Homo sapiens: one gene and its partner. The protein of the gene in region 1 purifies or fractionates together with the protein of each later gene. This does not show direct contact. Each region holds a gene or a part of one and is shown in the gene's direction. Other genes may lie near its edges.

The links. Proteins that work in one complex are often made in the same cells at the same time.
Region 2: the proteins of TTPAL (region 1) and C19orf38 purify together in Homo sapiens (affinity purification with mass spectrometry; one large-scale study listed by BioGRID and IntAct). This does not show direct contact.

Annotation. Positions count from the first base shown.
Region 1 is NC_000020.11:44,489,307-44,492,958, forward strand, and holds part of TTPAL (alpha-tocopherol transfer protein-like), read left to right. Parts: coding exon 1-235; 3' UTR 236-3,652. UniProt on the Homo sapiens protein: May act as a protein that binds a hydrophobic ligand.
Region 2 is NC_000019.10:10,851,363-10,855,014, forward strand, and holds part of C19orf38 (protein HIDE1 precursor), read left to right. Parts: intron 1-3,652.

The DNA of each region.
Region 1 (3,652 bases):
TCCAAGAAGCATCCTCCCCAAGGAGTATGGGGGCACGGCTGGGGAGCTGGACACTGCCACCTGGAACGCGGTACTGCTGGCTTCAGAAGACGATTTTGTGAAAGAGTTCTGCCAACCTGTTCCTGCCTGTGACAGCATCCTGGGCCAGACGCTGCTGCCCGAGGGCCTGACCTCAGATGCACAGTGTGACGACTCCTTGCGAGCTGTGAAGTCACAGCTGTACTCCTGCTACTAGCCCGTCCCCCAGGGTCACCATCTTTAATTCTTTTCCTTCTTTTCTTTGGAGAGGCACAAGGAGAATTTAAGGGTCCATGGATTCAGTCTTGCTCCTTGTAATTAAACTGCAGGATGGAGGAACAGCCTGAGATATGAGCATGAGCCCATTTTGGGGTAAGCCTTTGGTTACTTTAATTACTCCATGGAAGACATGGAAAATGTCCCCACTGATTCTTAAACATTTGGAATCCCAGTCTGCAACTATTAATCTGGAGGCTATATCTATTTTGTTTTGCTTTTTGGTTGGGGGGTGGTGATCTGGTTCTTACACATCTTGGAAGCAAGAACAATCAGGACCAAAGTCACTTTGATCCCACTTTTCCAGGAGAAAAACCACCTGTTTGGCCAGTGAGAACTACTTGTATGAAATAATTTGGCCAAACCTTCAGTGTGACCAAATGTGAGACTGGGAGTTTGTGTTTTTCACAGGAACCCTAAGTATAGACCTCTGCTGCTCATCAGGAAACTTACTGGAGATGAAGGCCCCAGCTGTTGTCACCGGGTTTGGAAAGCACCTTAACTGAATCATGTAAGCATCAGGACATAAGCAGCACTTTGTGGTCAAATGTGGAAGCCGGAGACTTCAAAGCACCTCTGGGACCCACTGGTTGAAGTTTGCAATAGAAACTTAAGTTTTCCCAAATCCATAAAGCCTTAGCCCTGGTTCTCAATAGAATCAGGGACCTAGCAGGAAATGATTTTACTCAACCTAAAATGCTGGATCCCAGGCCCGTGTAGCTATAAGAATTCTGGCCTGGATCCCAGGTGTACAACTATGGACAAGATATGGGCCTCTACTTTCTCCTCTATAAAATGAGGCTGGATGAAATGTCAGCTAGGGCCATTTTGGCTGCTGAGGCTCTGGGATTTGGTTTAGTTACTGAATGTTAGATTTTCTGCCTAGAAAGATAACTATCTAGATACAAGTGGTTGGATCCTGTTTTTGTTTGTGGTACATGTGTCTTTCCAAGAGAGATGTGTCACCAATTAGCCCTGCCTTTAAAGAAACTATTATGTGTATTCCTGGGACTCACTGACACCAATTTTCTTTTTATAGTGATGGTTCAATTTTGAAAAGATGGCTTTTGTGAGGCCAGGTTAAGGTGACCAGGATCTTGTATGATGAATTCCTTCCATCCCTGAGACTCTGGTACTATATTGTAAACCTGGCTACAGTAGTTAATTACTTGAGATTCTTTAATTTTGGTCTCTGAGCTGGGCGTGGTGGTTCATGCCTGTAATCCCAGCACTTTGGGAGGCCAAGGTGTGCGGATCACAAGGTCAGGAGTTCGAGACCCGCCTGGCCAAGATGGTGAAACCCCATCTCTACTAAAAATACAAAAATTAGCTGGGCGTGGTGGCGGGCTCCTGTAGTCCCAGCTACTCGGGAGGCTGAGGCAGAAGAATCACGTGAACCCAGGAGGCAGAAGTGGCAGTGAGCCAAGATCGCACCACTGCACTCCAGCCTGGGCGACAGAGCAAGACTCTGCCTCAAAAAAAAAAAAAAAAAAAAAAAATTTTTTTTTTTTTGGTCTCTGGAAATGAACACAAGGGCAGGTTATTCCTGGGTCACTTCTGGGCCCCCCTGCCCTCCCAGCCCCACTTGAGTTTCTCTCTCTGGTGTGGGTGAACCAGTCAGCCTGAATGTTCTGCATTTCAGCACTTTAGAACCTCCCTGTGAAGATTTTAGCCTTAGCCCAAACATCAAATTAGACGGTTCACATGATGGTTTTTGACCTATTTCCTTTCTAATGTATTCCACATGATCATGGTGTTAAATAGTGAAAAGTACTGTGTTGTGTGTGCACCTTCTCCGTGCATTTATTAGACTAACCAGTCAAGCAGACAGCTCAGTTAGGGAGAAAACAATACTCTGAAATTTGAAGGCCAATCTGTTGTTACTAAGCTGTTTATCTCTATTGCCTTTTTAAATGTCTGGATAAGTTGTTGGTGGAAATTAAGTTACTTAACCTCATTAATACCAATTCTAGAGAAAGTTCTTTTCACCATGGATAGTAACCCTGGATCCTCTACGGTACTGGCTGAGCTGGAAGTGCCAAAAAGCACTCCTGGCTGCTTCTGGTTCCATCTGATGATGATGTGACACACACTGCTGAAAAGGCCCAAGCAGGGCAAGTGGGATGGCTGAAGGAGGGAAGGAGGGGGTTCAGAACCCACTGGCCTGGATGGGAGAACTGGGTGGAGGCTTCCCCAAGAGGGAAGACAGATAAACAAAACAAAACAAAAACTGGGTAAAGAGGAATGAATCACTCAGCCCTGATGTTTCAATTCTACACTGCATTCCTGGCCAGTCGCATTTGTTTTAATGCAGGCATGGCCACAGCTCTCCTAGAGAATTATCTCAAAGACCAGAAGGGACCTGGAGAGGCCTATTTCTTAGGTTTTTCCAGTTGGACAAGGAAGGAGTGGTTTCACTCAGCTTCTAGAAGGAGTTGGAGCCTAAGTTTATCTGCCTCCGGGAGCTGCTTGCTTTGTTTTGGCTCCGAAGAGGTATCAGATAGTTTTGACACCTCAGGAAACTTGAACCAAGCTGTGAAACCAAGACCTCCCTGCGTGAAAATCAAGGTGGTCTCCTTGTGGCTTCACCAGGATGTTTGTGTCAGGCTGTCTCAGCAGGGTGGGGAATGACCAGCCAGGGAGCACAGTGAGCCTTACTCAGCACTGGGGAGCGCACTGGTGAGGCAAACCCATGAACCTCAAGAACTGGGAGTATGTTCCTTCAGGGAGAAGTTCTGGCCCATTGCACAAACACTTGGAAATTAACTTTTCCCTAAATTCAAGATAGTGTGGTGTCGGAAGGAAATGGGACAGTAAATTAGGAGACGCGGGCTCCACCTTTACCTTACTACGTGGCCTTTGATGAGCTGGCTTAACATCCCTGAGTGATTCCATGATAGAGATCTATACTCCAAACTTTATTCCTGGTATCTAGTTGGCTTCACTGCCACAGACACTGTACTCTCTCTTTTTAGAAGTTTTTTTCCTTTTTTTTCCCCCTCAATTGGCTTATTTAGTAAATTTAGGTCTGAATGAATTGGTACCTAAAAGCTTCCAAATCTATACATTTCAGAATATGGGAATTTTCTTCCTCTTCTTCCCCCATATCCCAACATGGAATTCTGGAAAACTGTGCCTCTTCCCCTGTTCTGCCTTCATGGGGGAGAGACTGGATGAAATCTACAAAAACAGCCAAAAGTGCCACCCTGGCTTCATGTCTTGAATTTCTAACTTGCTCTTGGCAAAGGTCGCTTTATTTTTTAATTTTTTTCCTTGCATTTTCTTTTTTATTCTATTGCTGCTGCAAAAATTAAGGCAAAAGTAGCTTTCGATCTTTCATATTTCATCCTGGTTTCAC
Region 2 (3,652 bases), on another chromosome or scaffold:
TTAAATGAGACAAGGTCGTGCAGACTAGAGGGCAATGGCACAATCATAGCTCACTTCATCCTCCAATTCCTATCCTCAAGTGATCCTCCCACCTCAGCCTCCTAAGTAGCTGAGACTACAGGTGTGCACCACCATGCCCAGCTAATTTAAAAAATTATTTTAGAGATGAGGGTCTAAAATGTTGACCAGGGCCGGACATGGTAGCTCATGCTTGTAATCCCAGTACTTTGGGAAGCTGAGGTAGGTGGATCACCTGAGGTCAGAGCTTAAGACCAGCCTGGCCAACATGGTGAAACCCTATGTCTATTAAAAATACAAAAAATAGGCTGGGCGTGGTGGCTCACGCCTGTAATCCCAGCACTTTGGGAGGCCGAGGCGGGTGGATCATGAGGTCAGGAGATTGAGACCATCCTGGCTAACAAGGTGAAACCCCGTCTCTACTAAAAATACAAAAAATTAGCCGGGCGCGGTGGCGGGCACCTGTAGTCCCAGCTACTCGGGAGGCTGAGGCAGGAGAATGGCGTGAACCCGGGAAGCAGAGCTTGCAGTGAGCCGAGATTGCGCCACTGCAGTCCGCAGTCCGGCCTGGGCGACAGAGCGAGACTCCGTCTCAAAAAAAAAAAAAAAAAAAATACAAAAAATAGCTGGGTGTGGTGGCATGCGTGTGTAATCCCAGCTACTCAGGAGGCTGAGGCAGGAGGATCATTTGAATCTGGGAGGCGGAGGTTACAGTGAGCCAAGACAGTGCCATTGCACTCCAGCATGGGTGACAGAGCAAGATTCTGTCTCAAAAAAAAAAAAGATATTGACCAGGCTAGTCTTGAACTCTTAACCTCAAGTGATCCTCCCACCTCGGCCTCCAGAGTAGCTGGGATTACAGATGTGAGTCACCATGCCCAGCATGAGCCACATAAGGTTTCTGAGCACTTACTATGGACCAAGAACTGTCTTTGGGCTTGCCCAAAGACATTCCAGGCTGACATTCCAGGCGGATGAGGACAGATGATAAACATGAAATCCAATATATATTCAACCTGCCAGCAGGGCACCAGATGAAATCCACCTGGGTGAGGATGTCATTATTTGAAGTAGAGTAGGGCGACTGGCCCCATGTTCTAATGGTCAGCCCTCTGGACTCTGAAGTAGAGTAGGGCAATCAGGGAAGCCCTCTCTGAGGAGGTGGCATTTGAGCAAAAAACTGAATGATGAGGAGGAGCCAATCATGTGGATATCCAGGGCATGTGTTGCAGGCAGAGGATACAGGATGTGCAAAGGCCCCGAGGCTGAAGCTTCCCTGGTGTGTCTGAGGAGCCCAGTATGGCTGAAGGATGGTGAACAAGGAGGAAAATGGGGAGAGGCGGGGCAGGGAGTTCACCAGGAGGATCGTGGGGGGTCTTGTAGACCACAGCAAGGATTCGATCTTTTCACCTGAGTGAGGGAACCCTGGCAGGGCTGATGTCCTTTTCTGATCTCTGAATGAGGAGGCTGGACATGGGTTATGGGTCAAGAAGCAGGAGGGAGGAGCCTTTGGTGGCCTTCTGTGTTACCATCAGTCAGAACTTTCCTGGCCGGGTGCAATGACCCACGCCTATAAGCCCAGGACTTTGGGAGGCTGAGGCAGGACGATTCCTTGAGCCAAGGAGTTCAAGATCAGCCTGGGCAACATAGTGAGACCCTGTCTCTACAAAAAAAAAAAAAAATTATTTTATTTTTTTTTTAGATAGGGGTCTTGCTTTGTTGACCAGGCTAGAGTGCAGTGGCGCAATCACAGCTCACTGCAGCCTCCACTTCCTGGGCTCAATCAATCTTCCCTTCTCAGTCTCCCTAGCAGCTGGGACTACAGCCGTGCACCACCACGCCTGGCTAATATGTCTATTTTTTGTAAAGACAGGGACTCACTCTGTCGCCCAGGCTGGAGTGCAGTGGTGTGACCCCAGCTCACTGCAATCTCTACCTCCGAGGTTCAAGCAATTCTCCTGCCTCAGCCTCTCGAGTCTCACTGCAACCTCTACCTCCGAGGTTCAAGCAATTCTCCTGCCTCAGCCTCCCGAGTAGCTGGGATTACAGGCGTGCACCACCATGCCCAGCTACTTTTTGAGTTTTAGTAGAGATGGGGTTTCACAATGCTGGCCAGGCTGCTCTCAAACTCCTGACCTCAGGTGTTCTGCCTGCCTCGGCCTCACAAAGTGCTGGAATTACAGGCGTGAGCCACCATGCCCAGCTCCCCCCAATTTTTTTTTTTTTTTTGAGACAGTCTCGGTCTGTCGCCCAGGCTGGAGTACAGTGGCACGATCTCGGCTCACTGCAACCTCTGCCTCCCGGGTTCAAGCGATTCTCCTGCCTCAGAGCCTCCCGAGTAGCTGGGACTACAGGCATGTGCCACCATGCCCAGCTAATTTTTTGTATTTTTTTTTTTAGTAAGAAGGGGTTTCACAGTGTTAGCCAGGATGATCTCAATCTCCTGATCTTGTGATCCGCCCACCTCAGCCTCCCAAAGTGCTGAGATTACAGGCGTGAGCTACCCCGTCCGGCTAATGTTTTTTTTTTTTTTTTTTTAATTAGGAGGGACTGCTGGCATGTGTCAGTAGGCTGAGGCAGGTGGATCACTTAAGCCGGGGAGGTAGAGGATATAGTGAGCCATGATCGCACCACTGCATTCCAGCCTGGGTGACAGAGGGAGACCCTGTCTGTAAAAACTTTTTTTTTTTTTTAATTTTTGAGACAGAGTCTCACTCTGTCGCCCAGGCTGAAGTGCAGTGGCCCAATCTCGGCTCACTGCAACCTTTGCCTCCCAGGCTCAAGCGATTCTCGTGCCTCAGCCTCCCGAGTAGCTGGGACTACAGGCGCCAACCACCACACCCTGCTAATTTTTGTATTTTTTAGTAGAGATGGGGTTTCACCATGTTGGCCAGGGTGGTCTTCAACTCCTGACCTCAAGTGATCCGCCCACATCGGCCTCCCAAAGTGCTGGGATTACAGCCATGAGCCACCGCGCCTGGCCCAAAAAAACTTTTAAAAAGAACTTTTTCACTGCAAAAAATAATCTTGTTGCCAGCCGAGGCCAACATGCAGCTATGACAGGGCAGTTCTCTGTCCTTCCCGGCCTCAGGCTCCTCTATCAAAGGCCCCCTTCTCTCACCTTGGCCTTGTGGCCTTGGAGTAGGGAGCTGACAACACCCCTTCTGCCCCAGGTGAATCAATGAACAAGGCTGACATTGTGAGAATACCAAGCGTCTGTCTTCTTCCCTCTTCTGGCTTAGCTCCTCACCTCCCTTGGGGTCAGGGCATCTCCTCTTTCTCCAGGAAGGGGAAGCGAAGTCTTGTGCTGAGAAGGTGACTCTGGAACTGCCACTCCCATGCCTGTGTGACTAGCTTCTGGGTGGATCTCAGGGTCTACCGTTGGGCTGGGGGTGGATGTCATCTGGCCACTGGCACCCAGACTGCAAGTAATAAAAACCTGACTCACACTGGCTCTACCAGCAAGAGGGGATTTGTTGGTTCACTGAGCTGAAGTCAGTTTACATGGCTGACTTCAGATATGGCTGGATCCAGGTGCTGAAAAATGACAGAAAGCATTTGCCTTCTCAGCTCCTCTTCTGTCTTATTCTCAGGTAGTTTCTCCCCCTCATGGAGGCAAGATTGTGCCCTGAAG